2 separate regions of the Homo sapiens genome follow, and region 1 is linked to region 2. The links come from fine-mapping of genetic effects on gene expression. A gene starts in region 2. The other region holds a variant in brackets. All regions are shown on one strand. Distances are between the middles of the regions.

Region 1 (9,641 bases), 28 kb before region 2:
TGGTGGCGGGTGCCTGTAATCCCAGCTACCTGGGACACTGAGGCAGAGAATTGCTTGAACCCAGTAGGCGGAGGTTGCAGTAAGCCGAGATCATGTCACTGCACTCCAGCCTGGGAAACAGAGTGAGACTCTGTCTCAAAAAAAAAAAAAAAAAAAAAAAAACATTTAAGAGAGAAAAAGACTCTCGGGGAAATTGGATGAGTTTGTGAAGTCCCAGATGTCCCGACACACTGAATTGGGAATATCACAGGCATTTAGATACAGAGCCTAGAGAGAGAGATTAGGCCCAGAGATTCTGATCCTCTAGAGGGCATTTAGAATATAATCTTAAAGTGGCATGGGGGAAGAAAAAAAAGCAGGGGTGCTACAGCAAAGACACTATCAGATGACAGATGTAGGAGAGTGGTCATGTCAAGAAGCAAAAGGAGATGATTTTGAAGGATGTAGCAGGTAATCAACAGTACCACGTGCTATGGAAAGATTGGGAATAATTCCATTATGAATTGAAATCACTCAAGGAAAGAATGTGGCAATCCTATCACATTCTTTTAATCTCCAAAGGGCTTGTAATTTTATTAAGTTTACACACAGTAAACTATGGAGCAGAACGTATATGTGTGTTCCATTTCTAATATTTACAAGGTGCTCTTTGTAAGTCACTGATTATAGACCAACAGAAGAATTCTTAACAGTTCTAGAACCAAGAAGATTAACATCATGTTTATTCCATATTTTAAAATTCATTGTCTGCATTCTGCTCTTGGAGTAGCTGAAACAGAAAAAGAGACAGCAGAGCACCTAGATCTGGCTGGTGCTTCTTCTCGGCCAAAAGATTCACAGAGGAACAGTCCCTTCCAGATACCGCCTCCATCTCCAGATTCCAAAAAGAAATCCAGAGGTATCATGAAACTCTTTGGAAAGTAAGTAAAGCAGTAAACAAGTGGAATGGGCCCTGTCTTACATGTTGCTTAAAAGTGGCTGGACATGGGTATGGACTTTGTAAGGCCTTTGTATTCCTCTTATGGAAGGAAGTTTGGATTGTGATGTGGGATTTATTAACTCATTGGGTCTTAGTTAAAGTTTAAATTTAAATGTCTATGTTAACAACACAAAGAGGATTAGTTCCAGTAGGTGCACTAGTTAAAAATGTTCTGATTAACAAGTCTAAGGCCTCCTCAGGTCTAATACTGGCCATGTGTGTTGTCTTCTTTAGACTTAGGAGAAGTCAATCAACTACATTCAACCCAGATGACATGTCTGAGCCTGAATTCAAAAGAGGAGGGACAAGGGCAACCGCGGGGCCCCGATTAGGTTGGTCTCGAGACTTGGGACAGTCTAACAGGTAAGAAGAGCCAACTGATAGACTTTTGCATCTCTACCAAGCATCATAGCCTCATGAGTCCTGCAGTATTAGTACTGTCATTGGGTTAAACAAAGTCATTGCTTAATGCTGTGCCTAATGAAAGGGGCCATCATCTTTAGAGCCGTGCAATTTGTCAATGGTTGATGAACAAACAGAAGGTGAGGGCTGTGCGAACTAGGGGAGAGGCCAGAGCTAAAGTGTCAGCAGCATCTGTGTTAGAATGGCTCTCAGACTTAAATTTTACGTAGATGGTAATTACAAGTACTCTAAAGCATAACTTTGGAAAGATGGGATAGCATAGTGGTTAAGAGTATGTTCTAGAATCAGACCACTTGGATTTGCTTTCTGGCCTTACCACTTTCTACCAGCTGGGTGACCTTGAGCAACAGCTTCCACACCCTGTGCCTCAGTCTCCTCATCATCATAATTAGTACCTACCCCAAAAGCTGACCATGAAGGTTAAATAAGTTAATATGTGTTAAATATTTGGCAGATAATAACTACTCAAGAAACATTAGCATGTAACAGAATCTATGAAAGCACTTAAAGACAAAAATGCTATCAGAATCCTTGTATTTATCAGGACTATATAATATTTTATCCATTAAGATTCTAAGAACTGCTCTGACACTCTTAACCAAAGTTTAGGGCTGGCTTAGAACTACTACATTGACTCACTGTGCATAAGAGGGTGGGGTTGGCAAACATAAAGTACAAGACATTGATACCAAATCTTTTAACAGTATAATAGACTGACTAGAAACCCTTTACATATAGCCCCTCCCATACAGGTGGAACACTGGACATAGGTTACATCAAGGAGGAAACTCTCTTTGGCCTTCTTCAAATACCAAACAGTTTCATTTGCCATATGTTGTCTTTGAACACAGTAGAGCTCCTTGTACTATTTAAAAAAAACCATTCATCTTCCCCTCCGCACCCTGCCCCCACCCCGGAACAAGAACACTATTTGTGTATCTAAGTAAAAGAAAACAGGAATTTTGCTTTGATTGTTTCCTACACTCAGTGACAACATATTGCCCTCTTCTCATTGGTTACCATATGGAAAGAAACCATAATTCTGCTAAAGTTAGTTCAAATTAGACTTAAGTTTCTTTCAGTCCAACTGAGTTTCCTGTTTGGGAATCCAATCTTCAAACAACATTGGTTAAAACTGATACAGTGACTTGTGTTTGTCCAATTTGGTCTTTTTCTGTAGCACTTGTTCTTGCTCTATCACGTTAAATCTTTTGTGGTTTCATTTGAAATGAAGACAGTGGTCTTAGAAGATAACTTTCAACCAGTTGTTCCTCCAATGTATACTAAAAATTAAGCTTTTCATGGTCAAATGTGTATCACCAGGGAATTTCCATGTCTATTGAATGTATAGTTGTTTAAAACTAATGATAAGCCACAGGATTGGCTTTGGATTATTTTTCATGCAATTACTCATTTTCCTGTAGTGACTTGGATATGCCATTTGCCAAGTGGACCAAGGAGCAGGTTTGCAATTGGCTGATGGAACAGGGCTTGGGCTCGTACCTGAATTCTGGCAAGCACTGGATTGCATCTGGCCAAACGCTTTTGCAGGCTTCTCAACAAGATCTAGAGAAGGTGACTGCTTCTCTGTTTTGTTCACACAATGGATACTGAGAAGAAAACAGTATGAATGTAGGGTTGTTTTATAGTCCAGAAAGGGCCATGAGTGAAGCCAGTAAAAACTCTGTAAACAAAAGTTTGGGTTTTCAATTGCTTCATGCTTCTTTTTTCTGGTGGTCTTGGGAGGACCTGGTCTTGATGATTCCTTATGGAACACTTAAGCCATTGGGCATTTTAATGAAAAAGAATTACATAAGCATAATTCAGTTCATATTTCTCGAAATCATTGTTTGGCTTTATCATTGGCCTGTTTTTCTCAGTGTAAGATATGCAATTAACTTCACTTTGCAAAAGAAAAAAAAAAAGCACCCTACAATTTGTGTCTAATTATTTAACATTTCTTCCAAATTATTTAATATTTTGTACAAAATAAGAGTCAAATTCTTTTTATGCATGCTACAGTTCCTAGCTTACAAAGAAAATGAGTCACTAGGGAATGCCTAACACACCCCTAAGATAATTGTGGTGGTCTTGGCTTTTCAGGGACCTTTTGTTCAACAACACTTTACTAGCCCAAGTTGGGATTGTAATTCAGTATTGAATTGGGTCTTTAATGCTAGCTTCATTTTGGAGAAATTTGCATCCTTTGCCAGTGGCACCCAGCCTATACAGATAGAATTATAAAGTCAATGTTTATTGTTTCAGGAACTTGGAATCAAGCATTCACTTCATCGAAAGAAACTCCAGCTAGCACTCCAAGCCCTGGGATCTGAAGAAGAAACCAATCATGGGAAGCTGGATTTCAACTGGGTCACTAGTAAGAAGTTTTTATTCTAACAAAATGAAATAATTATATACATAGTTGCTTTTTCTTTTTAATCACAAGAACAGATGTTTTGTGGCATGGTAGCAACACTGGCCTCTCTCTTTTAGGATGGTTGGATGACATTGGCCTCCCTCAATATAAGACCCAGTTTGATGAAGGACGGGTTGATGGTCGAATGCTACATTACATGACTGTTGTAAGTGACTCACTCCTGGGGTTTGGGGGAGGAAAACTTTTTTTCTCTGAAAAACACAGGAATTGAGTAAGCCAAACACAGTGTTTTCAGTGATTCCACCAGAGTTTGAAGCTGTTGCTTGAACTTGAGGAGAGTGGCAGGCATATTTCCCATGAGGCTGAAGTTGTAGCATTTGGTGATTGTGATTGAACAGGCTTGGGATAATTTGAAACCCCAATGTAAGCTAAGTGAAGCCTAATTTAAACTAAGCTCTCCAGAAGGTTGATTTTATATGTAATACATTCAACAAAGTAAACACTGAAGTGTACACTTTGAATGGGTACATTTTATGGTATGCAAATTATATCTCATAAAGATTTTTTTTGTATTATTTCTTTTGAGATGGAGTCTCGCTCTGTCACCCAGGCTGGAGTGCAATGACGTGATCTCAGCTCACTGTAACCTCTACCTCCCAGGTTCAAGCCATTCTCCTGCCTCAGCCTCCCGAGTAGCTGGGATTACAGGCTCACGCCACCATACCCAGCTAATTTTTTTGTATTTTTAGTAGAGACGGAGTTTCGCCATGTTGGCCAGCTGGTCTCAAACTCCTGACCTCAAGCGACCTGCCTGCCTCGGCCTCCCAAAGTGCTGGAATTATAGGCATGAGTCAACA[C/T]GCCCAGCCTAAAGATATTTTTTAAATAGAATGTAGAATTTTTAAGCCCAAGCTATCTCTAAGTTATGGGTTTCTATGTGCAATGACCATTTGGAAGAGGCCACCCTTTTGACCTGACATCTTCAAGGACTTGTCTTCTCCTTTCCACTCTGGACAACTGTTACCTGAAACCCTATCACCCGTCTCACTTCAGCCTAGTTCTGCTACAGCAGGAGTTACTGGGGTTAAAGGAGGAGGGAGGAAGGCTAGACTTCTACTCTGGTTCCTTCATTATTGTACATTTCTAGCCCTCCAGCCAATGTGTAGGACTATTCCCTGCTTTACAGCAGTGAGAAAGATGGATTCCAGGAGAACTTTGTTTTAGGTTCCATACCACTATTAATGTTCTACTTAAAATTCTCTTTATTTATTTATTTTTATTTTTATTTTTATTTTATTTTATTTTATTTTGAGACGGAGTCTCGCTCTGTCGCCCAGGCTGGAGTGCAGTGGTGCGATCTCGGCTCACTGCAACCTCCCTCTCCTGGGTTCATGCCATTCTCCTGCCTCAGCCTCCCAAGTAGCTGGGACTACAGGCACCTGCCACCATGCCTGGCTAATTTTTTGTATTTTTAATAGAGACGGGGTTTCACCATGTTAGCCAGGATGGTCTCGATCTCCTGACCTCGTTATCCACCCACCTTGGCCTCCCAAAGTGCTGGGATTACAGGCGTGAGCCACCGAGCCTGGCCTTGTTCTACTTAAAATTCTTTTATTTATTTATTTATTTTGGAGACAGAGTCTCACTCTGCTGCCCAGGCTGGAGCGCAGTGGCACAATCTTGGCTCATGGCAACCTCCACCTCCCAGGTTCAAGTGATTCTCCTGCCTCAGCCACCCGAGTAGCTGGGATTACAGGTGCACACCACTGCTCCTGGCTAATTTTTGTGTTTTTGGTGGAGATGGAGTTTCGCCATGTTGGCCAGGCTGGTCTGGAACTTCTGACCTCAGGAGATCCACCTGCCTCGGCCTCCCAAAGTGCTGGGATTACAGGCGTGAGCCACTGTGCCCGGCCTAAAATTCTTTTATTTAAACAGCTTTTTGTGAAGTAGGCTATAGACCTAACTACCCTAAGTATAATCTTTTTCAAGTAAGTAGCAAGTTTTAAACAGCCAACTTAAGTAGGCATTTCTCAATGTCAAAAAAATTTGGAGTTCAGTTCATGGATTTTTCTTCTCTGTCATTGAACCCAAGCCCCTTACCTTGATGAGCACATCACATAAACCTGCGTGAAATAATACTAATATGTGTAGTATGTTGCACATTTGCTATGTGTCAAACATCCTTTTAAGCATTTTGCTCATATTAATACTGGATTCTCAATAACCCTTTTAGTTAATATTACTAATATTATTATAGTGTGTATAATATATATTAAAAAGTTTTTAAAACTTTTTATTTTAAGATAATTTTAGATTTACAGAGGAGTTGCCAAAGCTAGAATTCTGTATACCTTTCACTCAGCTTCCTCTAACGTTAACATCTTACGTAATCATGATTACATTCATCAAAATTAAGAAATTAACGTAGATGTTAATACAATCAACTAAACTGAAGACTATTCACATTTCACCAGTTTTTCCAGTAAGGTCCTCCTTCTGTTCCAGGATCTAATCTAGGACACTACATTAAAACACACATTTTGTGACTTACGACTTCTGGGGTCAAATTTTCCAGGGTCATTTACTCTTTTATAGCCATTTCACATACGCTGCTTGTGATTTTAAGCTTGAATTTGTTCACATATATACTATATAATTATGTAATACTGTATATACATAGTATTATACACACATATGTAATACTGTAGATACATAGAGTATGTATATATATATATACACACACATACACATATATGCATGTTTGTATATATGTGTGTGTGTATCCATATACACACACACACACACTCTGTGTATCTATAGTATTATAATACTATTATTATCCCTACTTTTTTACATGTATAAAGGAAGGAATCGAGAGGTTGGGTAACTTGGTAACCAAGTTTCCACAGTTAGCAATAGAAAGTCATAGAGAGTTTGAACTCAGGCTGTTTCAAGATCCCTGCTTTTAATAGCTCACGATTATGACTAGAACACATTCAGTAAATATTTGCCTCCCTCTCTAAGTGTGAGTATGTTCCCCCTGAGAATGTGAACAAATTCAAGCTTAAAATCACAAGAAGCATCTGTGAAATGGCTATAAAAGAGTAAATGACCCTGGAAAATTTGACCCCAGAAATCCTAAGTCACAAAATATGTGTTTTAATGTGGATTAGATCCTGGAACAGAAGAAGGACCTTACTGGACAAACTGGTGAAATGTGAATAAAGTCTGCAATTTAGTCAATTGTACATTAATTTCTTAGTCTTGATGAATGTAATCATGATTATGTCAGATGTTAACATTAGAGGAGGCTGAGTGAAAGGTATACAGAATTCTATTCTATCTTTGGCAACTCCTCCACAAATTTAAAATTATTTTAAAATAAAAAGTTTTAAAAAAATTGGGAAGAAAATCACTCAGAAAGTCTGTTTTGATATAAAATAAAACTTTCTTTTTAAAATCCTTCGAAGTATAAAGAATTTCAAAAATAATTAACATTTTAATCACACTGTAAACATTGTGCATTCAGATATTTTTTTAAGCTGACAGACTAGTTAGATGAAAAGAGTCCAGACTGAAATGTTTGGAATGGGTGTCTCAATCCTAGATTAAAATAAGTACTCTTTCTAACATGTCTTAAGACACTACTTTTAAGGAATTACTCCAGAAAAACTTCAGGAAATAATTTTTGCCTGGTTAGTAGCCTCAAGGATTTAAACTGATTAATATTTTTATTAAATATTTCTGTAGTAGATTACATTTTTTTCTTTCTTTCATGAGAAGTGTTTTATCAGAAAGGTGTGTCTAAAATGGATGCTTTCCTTGTTTATTTTCTGGGTGTGTTTGGAAGTAGACTGTTGCTTATCTTCATACTGCTCCCAATATCACCTTCTTCTGAAATAATTTGTTTTGGTGTGTTTGGTATATTTGAAAATATTCCCAAGAGCCACAGACTGGTGAAAATTCTTCCTTGAAGGGGTTGATTGGTAATATATATATGTGATACTTATAACTTCATTTTTCTTCTCTCCTTGACTCTGACCAAAACCTTTGCACTGATTGATTATAGTTGTGCCAAAATTGTTCACAATGTCTGCTAGATAAACCATAATAATCTAGAGCTATTCAATAGCAGACAGGTCCTTACTAAAAAATAATTTAGAACTAGAGAATTATTAAGGTCAGGGAATAGTATAATAAGAGCACTGTTCTGATTTTCCCCAAAATTATGATGTGCCTTAGTTCAGAAAACCCAGCCTTGCTAGGAGCGGTGCCTCACGCCTGTAATCCCAGCTTTTTGGGCGGCTGAGGCCGGGGGACTGCTTGAGCCTAGGAGTTTGAGATAGCCTGGGCAGTATAGTGAGATCCTATCTCTCCAAAAAAAAAAAAGATGAAAAAAGAAAGCCAACTCTTGATCATGTTCACCAATGAGCATCATTCGCTCTTCACTATCTGCTGAAAGGAAACAGAGAGGGCAGTTTATCCAAAGCCTAAGTACTTTATCCACCGATAAAGTTCTCAAAACTAAAGAGGAAACAAATAAATTCCCTGTTTGTAGTATGTGCAGATCAAGTCAAAGCAGATCACCTTTTGTAGTGACCCAGCAAGTGCTTTTCTAACTGTGTTTTTCAGAGCCCTGGGGTTCTACAGATCTCAGAGCATCTGGAAGAGAGAGAAACAGGTGGAAGTCAGCTTCATTGGCAAAAAATACTAATCTGGGGTTTGGGGGAAGATTTTGTTCCAAATGGGAAAGTGGGTTCTGACAAGACCTTGGGGCATATTGGTTTGAGGGGCTCTTCTCCTTTTACTCCAGTTTTCTGAGATTCCCTAAGAAAGTCCTCCTGCTACAGGCCAGCACAGTGAGCTCCTCCTTTTGTTCTTTTTTGCAGGATGACTTACTGTCTCTGAAGGTTGTAAGTGTGCTACACCATCTCAGTATCAAAAGGGCCATCCAGGTCCTGAGGATCAATAACTTTGAACCAAACTGTCTACGGAGGCGGCCATCTGATGAGGTAGTGTTTTAAGATTGAGGTTTATAAGCATGCACTTCCCAGGCATGGGACTGTCCATGTGTCGAAACTAAGAGCCATTTTTCTTGGAGCCTGCAGGAAAAGCCTTAAAATCCAGCCTCATTTACTTCTTAGGCTTTTTCTGTATTCCTTCCTTTTCTCTCCATGACGGTTCCCCTTGTGTAACTAAAGCCAAGGGTTCTTTTTCAGTTATGCTTCTTCCTTTTCTTGGGTGTATTTTTTTTTCCTGACTCTAATCAACAGAGATAAATATCACTATAAAGACTTCCTTTTCTGGCCAAGTATAGTGGCCAATGCCTATAATCCCAGCACTTTGGGAGGCCAAGGCAGAAGAATCACTTGAGCCCAGGAGATCAAGACCAGCCTGGGCAACATAGGAAGACCCTGTCTCTACAAAAATAATAATAAATTAGCCAGGCATGGTGGGTGCACGCTGGTGGTCCCAGCTACTCAGGAGGCTGAGGTAGGAGGATCCGTCTGAGCCTGGGAGATGGAGGCTGCAGTGAGCCCTGATTATACCACTGCAACGCCAGCGTGGGTAAGAGAATTAGACCCTGTCTTAAAAAAAAAAAAGACTTCCTTTCCTAAAGCAATGCTTTATTAGTATATAAGAAAGCTTGAAACTCAAACTATGACAGAAATTCTTTAAAAGAGAATTTTTCCCTTTCTTTTTGCATTTAGTGGGTTGTTGAGTAACTGTACTCCATGGAGCAGACTTTTTAGACAGAAAATGCAATTTAATATTTAGGATCCTGGTTGTGTGTTCCCATAGAATACCATCGCCCCATCAGAAGTTCAGAAGTGGACTAACCATCGAGTGATGGAGTGGCTGCGC
Region 2 (9,641 bases):
GCCTGTAATCTCAGCTACTTGGGAGGCTGAGGCAGGAGAACGACTTGGACCCCGGAGGTGGAGGTTGCAGTGAGCTGAGATTGTGCAACTGCACTCCAGCCTGGGTGACAGAGCAAGACTCCTTCTCAAAAAAGAGAAAAAAAAAAAAAGAAGTTAGTTTTGATTAAAAGTAGCTTTTTAATACAAAGGATAAACGCTTGAGGTGATGGATACCCCATTTACCCTGATGTGATTATGATACATTTTATGTCTGTATCAATATATATCATATACCCCATAAATATATATACTTCCTATGTATCCATAAAGATAAAAAATTAAAAAGTAGCTTTTATTGAATTAATTCAGGTTTAAATATAATAAAAACCAATTGTAAGACAGCTTAATATTTAAAATTGTTCTACACAGGACCAGCTACATAATTTGTAGGTTCCAGTGCAAACTGAAGATGCAGGACTCCTTGTTAAAAAAAGTATTAAGAATTTTAAGACAGCAACAGCAAAGCATTAGGCCAAGCGCAGGCACGTTGTATGTCTATGAAGCCAGCCTAGCTTCTATGATGTGTTAGATTACATGGTCACAAAGTTTGAAGAAAATATTTTTTTTGTTTGTTTGAGACAGGTCTCACTCTGTCGCCCAGGCTGGAGTGCAGTGGCACTATCTCGGCTTTCTGCAACCTCTGCCTCCTGGGCTCAAGTGATCCTCCCACCTCAGCCTCCCCAGTAGCTGGGACTACAGGCACACATCACCATGCCTGGCTAATTTTTGTATTTTTTGTAGAGACAGGCTCTTGCTATGTTGCCCAGGCTGGGCTTAAACTCCTGAGCTCAAGTGATTCCCCTATCTCAGCCTCCCAAAATGTTGAGAGTACAGGAGTGAGCCACTGCACCCAGCAAAGAAAATATTTTTATCGTGAGTGAATGATTGCACCTCTAAGATCACTGCCAAGTGAAAAATTATGTAATCTTAGTAACCCCTATGTGCAAGATAGTACATGCTTTACTCTTTACACTGCACAAGACAGATATTTTTGCTTGTTGATAGCATTAATAGCATTATGAATGAATTTTTAACTTTTACTATAGAATGAAACTTACTGTACTTGATGCCACGGAAAACAATAAGTATTTTTCTGGCTCCTCTAGCTCTGGTCATCTATCCACTTTAGTCTTAGGGAGAGAGTACAACAAAAGATAGAACGCATAGCAAGGTAGAATGGGGACCTATGTCTTTAATATCTTGCTCAGAAATTAAGAAATATTGTTAGAGTAGGTAGCTAGTCATGAATGAGCAGGGCAGGAGAGGGCTCCCCTTATACACACACCCCCCTCCACACACACACACGCACACCCCAGGAATTTCAGGCGACCATCAGGTGACGGTCAGGTGGTTATTAACTGTCTTTCTAAAACAATAATTGGTTGCAGCCAGCACCAGGGAATAGCATTCTCCCAATAGATACAAAAAACCTGAAACTAGTGATCAGCAACTTTCCAGTAAGATCTCAGGAGCTGGGTGAGTGTGCGCAAGCGTGCACATTAAGAAGCAAAATGGCAGAATTTAACTGGTATTTGATCTTCTAGGGACGTGCAACTGCTAATGGAAGAATGCCTCAAGTAAGCATGTATACGACTCCAATAAACACACTATGCATGCTCCCCTCCCAAGTCCTGGCAAGCCACTGTGCATGCAGACAGCCCACCCCAAGGGAAAAATCAGGGGAGAAGGGACATAGACCCCAGAAGTATGCCAACGTATAAAACCCTAAGTCAAAGGTCAAATGGGGTACTTGACTTTCAAGTCGCCCACTTGGCCCTCTTCCCAGTGTATTTCCTTCCTTTTGTTCCTGCTGTGAAGCTTTTTAATAAACTTTCACTCCTGCTCTAAAAGTCGCTTCTGTCTCTCCTTCTGCCTTATGTTCCTCGATCAAATTCTTTCTTCTGAGGAGGCAAGAATTGAGGTTGCCGCAGACCTGTACAGATTTGCCGCTGGTAACAGTATGAATATGATCATACTCCTTTTGTCCCTAAATTTCTATGGTATAGGACTTGCACTTTACTAAAATATACAAACTTGCAAGAAAAGGAGGCTGTTGCATTGACCCTACACTTAATGCCAATGCCCACCGTTTATATTTATGCCTTTAATCACGACTGTCGTAAGAAAAATATTATTGCTGTCATTTTCCTTGAAACTGAAACTCAGAAAGATAAGGTAGATTTGCCCAAAATCATAAAGAACCAGAGCCTGGATTCAAACCTCACCTCCATCTGATTAAAAAGGCCATGATTTTGATCTTAAAAATAGTCCGAGGAGAGGAGAGAACTCCATTGGAATATGGGGGCAGAAGGTGATGTGATGTGATGTGTCTACCAGCCAAGGAGTGCCAGCAACCATTAGAAGCTAGGAGGGAGGCATGGAACAGATTCTCCCTCAGAACCTCCAGAAGGAACCAACCCTGCCGACACCTGGATTTTGGACTTTCCAGACTCCAGGATTGTGAGAGAGGAAATTTCTGTTGTTTTAAGTCACCCAGTTTACGGTACTTTGTTCCAATCCCCTAGGAAACTCATACATCATGCTTCTATTTTGGAACAATAACAGGATGGTAAAAGTCCAGAAAAGATGAAGATGATGAATATTACAAATACTTGTCCATCTCATGCTATTTGTCCCCCTCCCATACCTTACTGATTGATGTCCATGGCGCACTGAATGTTCACAGCTAGAATATTCTTGGACACCTGCATACCTCTGCTCTACTGGTTGTATGCTTACCAAGAATCGGTTTTGTTTATTTTTAGTTGTTTTTACTGTTATAATTTTGTCACTTTGAGACAAAATAGGGAAATAGGCCAGACCCATGCCTGTAATCCCGACATTTTGGGAGGCCAAGGCAGGAGGATCACATGAAGCCAAGAGTTTGGGACCAGCCTGGACAACATAGCAAGACCCCCAACTCTACAAAAAACTTAAAAATAGAAAAAATAGGCCAGGTGCAGTAGCTCACGCCTGTAGTCCTATCACTTTTTTGGGAGGCCAAGGCAGGAGGATCGCTTGAACCCAAGAGTTTGAGACCAGCCCTGGCAACACTGTGAGACCTCATCTCTGGAAAAACAATTTTTTTTTTAATTAGCTGGGTGTGGTGGTGCGTGCCTGTAGCCTCAGCTACTTGAAAGGCTGAGGTAGGAGGATCACTTGAGCCTGGGAGGTCAAGGCTGCAGTGGGCCATGGTCCTGCTACCACATTCCAGCCTAGCAACAGAGCAAGACTCTGTCTCAAAAATAATAATAATTAATTAATTAATTAAAATAATTTTTAAAATAAAGAGAAAATAGAGAATTTATTTTATTTTATTTTATTTTTGAGGCGGAGTTTTGCTTTTATTGCCCAGGCTGGAGTGCAATGGCGCGATCTCGGCTCATCGCAACCTCTGCCTCCCGGGTTCATGCGATTCTTCTCTCGAGTAGCTGGGATTACAGGCATGTGCCACCACACCCGGCTAATTTTGTATTTTTAGTAGAGACCAGGTTTCTCCATGTTGGTCAGGCTGGTCCCAAACTCCTGACCTCAGGTGATCCACCCGCCTCGGGATCCCAAAGTGCTGGGATTACAGGCGCGAGCCACCGCGTCCGGCCGAGAATTGTTTTATTAAGGCTTGTATGTTAATTCATCCTACCGTAGAAAATTTAAGAGTGTTCATTAAAAGTTTATTTTCTAGGTCCTGATGAGTTCTGACTTTCTGTAATTCTAAGCTGATCTAACAACAAGCTAACCATATATAGCTAAAAGTTATAGGCTACGTACACGCGGTGTTCACTGTATGCCAACGCTGTACACAAATATTTGTCTATGCTAACTTGTCTGAGATCATACATCCCAGAAGTGGTGAAGTCAAGTTTGAAACCCAAGCACTCTGGCTCGGGATACTGCTTCTCTCCCCTTAGCGCATATTACTGGCATTAGTTGAAGACTTCTTTAATCCAAGTAAATGTAGAAAAGCAACAATTATAAATAACAAGAGTCCCTCGGGTAGACCGCCTGACTCTCGGATCAACTGAGGTTCCACCCAGAGCACGCCCGCCTTCAGTGAGCCGCAACCCCTATCCCTACGGTCTTTATCTGCAATTCTCTACGAACTGATTCACTCGATTTTTAAGGATTTTTTTTGTTTTCTTTTCATTACTTCTTTCAGTTTGGGGGAATCTTCCTGCACATTTGACTCGGCTCTGAGTGCGCAGACCAACGTGTTTCCTCTTTCTCCAGCCTAGGGCGGTGCCAGCCCAGGGAGCCTGCGCTTAGCGGCCCCAGGCCCGCCCCTGACACTGAACGCCGCTTGTCCCCTCCGGCTTGCCGTCCTCGCAGCCATGGCGGCCGCCGCGCTCCCAGCATGGCTGTCTCTGCAGTCGAGGGCAAGGACTCTGCGTGCATTCTCCACTGCCGTCTACTCGGCCACTCCGGTCCCGACACCTAGCCTGCGTGAGTGTCTGTCTCGTCTTCTCTGGGCTTTGGGGGAGGTGCAAGAGCGGAATACCGGCCTCATGAAGGGTGCCGCGGTGGCTGAGCCAGCGCCGCCCGGGGGAGGCCAGTGCGTCCGCTGCCAGGCCCGTCTGGTAGGAAAACCATGGACGTGGGTCTGTGCTCTGCACCCGCGTTGCCCGGCTTCTAGCCGCCTGTTTCTGCCCTGGGTGCTCTGGGAGTTTGCTCAGAAAGCTTACATCCCCCTTCCCCGTGACCTGCTCCTGTGTTGCCCCCGTCCACAGCCCCTGGCACAGGTTACTGGTGCTGTGTTGTTTATCGGGCATCGGCGCTGTTGAACCATGGATTTCCCCAAACATTAAGAGAGTCATACGGCTGTGCTAGGACAAATTGCTGCTCTGAATTCCAGGCCACCAAATGGGCGGCCTTCATTCAACAGGCGTTGATGACCTCCATTTAACAGAGATTGTAGGGATGCTTGATAGCGTGCTTACCCCGGAGGACTCTAGTGGAAAATACAGATTTATTAGCGGAGAAGTGCTATGTAGGGTGAGAGGCGCTGTGATAGAAGTGTGGCTAGAATGACGGGAGCGTTGAGGAGGAGCTGGCGTGAGTCTAATCAATAGGCGGATCCTACCTGTGCTACTTCCTGTTATATCTCTAATTTACTCTCCTCATACTACCAACTATCTAGTTCAGGTGACCATCTCATTTCTACAAGTTTTTTTTCCGTTTCCTGTTTCCCCTCTTGCTCTCCTACATTGAATTCTCAAAACAGCCAAATGAGGTTTTCAAAATTTAGATCTTGTCTTGCTGCTCTCATGTTCAAGATCTACAAATGGTTTCCCATTGTTTTCAGATAAACTATAAATACATTAATCCTTCATACTGGCTCTTCATAGGTCTAATAATTGTCTATTTTTAAATTTTCATTCTTAAATTCTTGGAATACTTAACTCCTATTGTATACCATGCAGTGTTCTAGACACTCACCGGAGATACGGCAAGGTGGGGAAGTCAATAGTATAAACAACCAAACAACTAAATAAGATGTCAGATAGGGTTTAATGCTTTGAAGAAAAATAAAGTAGAGTATTGAGAATGATGGATTTGGGGGGAGTAGTGGCCACAGGATGGTCAGGAAAGATCTTTCTGAGGAAGTGACATTTGAACAGGGCCCCAAGCCATGCAGAGATATGGGGAAAGAGCCTTTGGGGTATGGGGAACTATAAGTGCAAAGGCCAAAAGTTGAGAACAATCTGAGGGGTGTGATCAAGGAACGGGAAGAAGGACAATGTGGCAGGAGCTAAGTGTGAGTAGAGGAGAGAGTGGTAGTATAAGACGTCAGAGAGTTAGTTAAGTAATAATCTGATCTCTCAAGAGTTTGTAGACATTTCATTTGGATTTTTGGCTTGGGTTTTATATTGAAAGGCTTGGAACAGGGAACTGATATAATGTGATTTACGTTTTTAAAAGATCACTGGCTGCTTTACTGGGGTAAGAGTGGAAGCCAAAGATCTGTTTGGAGGCTGTTGCAGTAATCCAAATGAGGTGATGGTGACTTGGATTAAAGTAATAGTGGAGAAGGAGGTGTGGTTGTATTTGCGATATATTTTGAAGGTAAAGTTCATAGGATTTACTGATGGATTTGATGTGGGGCTTGAGGACAAGTCTCAAAAAAATCCTGTTACATTTTTGTTCTGAGCAATTGGATGAATGATGATTCCATGTACACGAATTGGGAAGACTGGAAGAAGAAAATCAAAAGCCCTGCCAAGGGGCTGAGTGTGGGGGCTCATTCCTGTAATCCCAGCACTGTGGGAGGTCGAGGCCTGCGGATCCCTTGAGCCCAGGAGTTTGAGACCAGCCTGGGCAACATGGCGGAACCTCGTCTCTATTGAAAATACAAGAAATTAGCCAGACGTGGTGGCCCATGCCTGTAGTTCCAGCTACTCCAGAGGCTGAAGTGGGAGAATCACCTGAGCCTGGGAAGTCGATTACAGTGAGCCGTAATCGCACCACTGCCCTCCGGCCTGGGTGACGGGAGTGAGACCCTATCTCAAAAGAAAAAAAGTTCTGCTAAGGATGCATTATAGTTAAGACGCCTGTTAAGTGCCTTCAGCCTCTTTTCTCTCTGTCTCTCTCTGTTCTGTTCTTAAATTTCAGCCATATTGAATTTGTTCACTTTGATTTTCCATGTGCTCTCACTCTGTCAAAACACTTTTTCTCACCTGCTTGTCTTCATGGCTACGTCCTGCTCATCTTTCAGGTTTTAGCTTAAAGTTCACTTTCTCAGGGAGATTTTCCCCAACTGATTAGAGTTTTCCAGAGAGACAGAACGTAGATGTAGGATAGGATAGATGTAGATGTAGATATATAGACATATGATGGGATTTTTTAGGGGAATTGACTCACCCCACAATAGGCTGTCTGCAAGCTGGAAGCCCATGTCAGTCCAAGTTCAGAAACCTCAGAACCACAGAAGCCATGTAATTTTCAGGCCAAGGCTGAAGGCCTAAGAACTCAGGGGGCTGCGTGTACAAGTTCCTGGAGTCCAAAGGCTGGAGCACCTGGAGTTCTGATGTCCAAGGGCAGGGGAAGAGTGTCCCAGGTCCAGAAGAGAGAGAGAGAGAATATATTCTTCTTTCATCTGCCTTTTTGTTCTTTCTGTGCCCTCAGCTGATTGGATGATGCCCACCCACATTGAGAGCAGGTATTCCTCACTCAGTCCACTGACTCAAATGCCTGTCTCTCCTGGAAACATCCCCACAGACATGCCCAGAAATAATGCTTTACCACATGTCTATGTATTCCTCAATCCAGTCAAATTGACACAAAGTTAACTATCATGGCTGGGCACAGTGACTCACCCCTGTAATCCCAGCACTTTGGGAGGCTGAGGTGGGTGGATCGCTGGAGCTCAAGAGCTTGAGACCAGCCTGGCAACATGGCGAAACACCGTCTCTACAAGAATTAGCCGGGTGTGCTCATGTCTTTAGTCCTAGCTACTTGGGGTGCTGAGGTAGAAGGATTGGCTTGAACCTGGTAGTTCGAGGCTGCAGTAAGCCGAGATTGCACCACTGCAATCCAGCCTGGGCGAGAGTGAGATGACCTTGTCTCAAAAAAAAAAAAAAAAAAAGAAAGAAAGAGAAAAAAGAAAAAATTCACCGTCATACAAACTAATTGACTAGGTTTCGTTCCCTGCTATATGTGTTCATAATATTTATCACTGTTTATTGAAATTATTTGTTAAAAAGTTGTCTTACTTGACAGACTCTGTAAGAGTCATTTTTTAGATAATGAATTCACTGTATCTGCAATTCAAATAACTGTAGAATTTTCCTTACTGGGGCTAGGCACAGTGGCTCACACCTGCCCACCGCACTTTGGGAGACTGAGGCAGGCGGATCACTTCAGGTCAGCAGTTTGAGACCAGCCTGGCCAACATGGTGAAACTCTATCTCTACTAAAAATACAAAAATTAGCCAGGTGTGGTGGGGTGTACTGGTAGTCGCAGCTACTTGGGAGGCTGAGGCAGGAGAATCACTTGAACTCCGGAGGTAGAGGTTGCAGTGAGCCGAGATCACACCACTGCAATCCAATCTGGGTGATACGCCGAGACTCCCTCTGTTTCCAGTTTTTAGTCTTCATTAAGATGATTTTGGTCCCTGAGCTTACCAAAAAAAAAAAAAAAAAGATTGTTTCATTGTTATGTTACTAAATACCTTAAATTGTGTTAGAATAATGGGATCATGATTGATGTTGAACAACTAACTTGACATGATAAAATTCTCTTTAACTACTGTGTTATCTTTTACGTACAGCGGAAAGAACACCCGGAAATGAAAGGCCACCAAGAAGAAAGGTAAAAAGTTCGTATACTCTACTATCTTAATGGTTTCTGGAGTTCTAAAATGAGGCAGATATTCATTATAAGGCAGAAGGGTGTTACCAGAGAAGACTTCACAAGGTCATGTTTACTGGGTGATTGCCATAGCCCTGGCAGAGGTTAGTCTTTGTTTTTTGTCAGTACCCAGAGAATAGATGATCTTTGAGAGGTTGACTTACTGAGGAACTCCCAGGAAACAGGTGTATAAACCAGAATATGGAACAATTTCTAATGCTATCTTAAGTCCTGCAGCCTGGGACTTATGCATTAATATAACTAGTTTGTTTATTTATTTATTATTATTTATTTGAGATAGAGTTTCCCACTTGTTGCCCAGCTGGAGTGCAGTGGTGCAGTCTTGGCTCACTGGTACCTCTGCCTCCCGGGTTCAAGTGGTTCTCCTGCCTCAGCCTCCCAAGTAGCTGGGACTACAGGCACACACCTCCATGCCTGGCTAATTTTTTGTGTTTTTAGTAGAGAGAGGTTTTCACCATGTTGGTCAGGCTGGTCTTGAATTCCTGACCTCAGGTGATCCACCCGCCTCAGTGCTGGGATTACAGGCGTGAGCTACTGCACCTGGCCTCCCAAAGTGCTGGGATTACAGGCATGAGCCACGGCACCTGGCCGTATTCTAACTAGTTGAGTCTCACCCTGTGGACATTTGGATTCCTTACTTCTATGGAGGAATCTAAACGATAAGGTCAGTTGGTGAGCAATAGTGTCAGAACAAAGACACATTAGTTGGAAGTTAAATGGTATCAAATTACAATCATTAAGAGCAGTCATTTCCTCAGGACTATTACCTGCTTCTAGGATATTGACTACACTGGTTTTGATATTGCGTAGGCGGGGCATGGCTGAATTTTGCCACTATAAACCCTACTTTTGTATGTGGGCCATCCCCTCGTATTTGATGCCATTAAAAATAAATGTTAATGTGATTGACTAAGCTATCAAGTACTAGTTTTTCTCTGGGCCTAGGAGACATATAATTTTTCATTATATATTTATTCAATCAGTTTAACCCTAATTATTTTTTCCTTTTCTTTTTACTTCCAAGTACTTAACGCCCCCTCATGTACTACTGACTTCCATCAAAGAAGTTCGAAAAATTATTTCAAAATGTATTGTTAATTCACCCTTTCATAAGCAAAATGTAAAAATTTTGCTAAAAGTCCAGTTAAAGAAATTTTTAGTGAAGAAAATGTGATATTAAAGGGGATCCTTGCCAGAGGGTTTGAAGAAACAGTGCAGAGATATTTAGGTAGATTTA

What was found. PIP is the estimated chance that this variant, and not a neighbour inherited with it, causes the effect.
Region 1: its variant is fine-mapped to the expression of MRPS35 in fibroblasts (GTEx, PIP above 0.99).

Annotation. Positions count from the first base shown.
Region 1 is chr12:27,678,720-27,688,360 of GRCh38, forward strand. PPFIBP1 (PPFIB scaffold protein 1) reads left to right here. Exons shown (of 30, transcript NM_003622.4): 20 at 770-920; 21 at 1,214-1,342; 22 at 2,827-2,977; 23 at 3,668-3,779; 24 at 3,896-3,984; 25 at 8,666-8,788; 26 at 9,579-9,641. Among named protein-coding and RNA genes, the nearest start is that of REP15, 13 kb to the right of the region's middle. The variant C/T (reference allele first, on the strand shown) is at 4,637.
Region 2 is chr12:27,706,477-27,716,117 of GRCh38, forward strand. MRPS35 (mitochondrial ribosomal protein S35) reads left to right here and starts at 4,356. Exons shown (of 8, transcript NM_021821.4): 1 at 4,356-4,479; 2 at 8,304-8,344. The coding sequence starts at 4,368. It overlaps MRPS35-DT (MRPS35 divergent transcript), which reads right to left and starts at 4,271. Exons shown (of 5, transcript XR_001749448.2): 1 at 4,187-4,271. RefSeq lists enhancers at 3,787-3,866, 3,897-3,976, 3,987-4,776.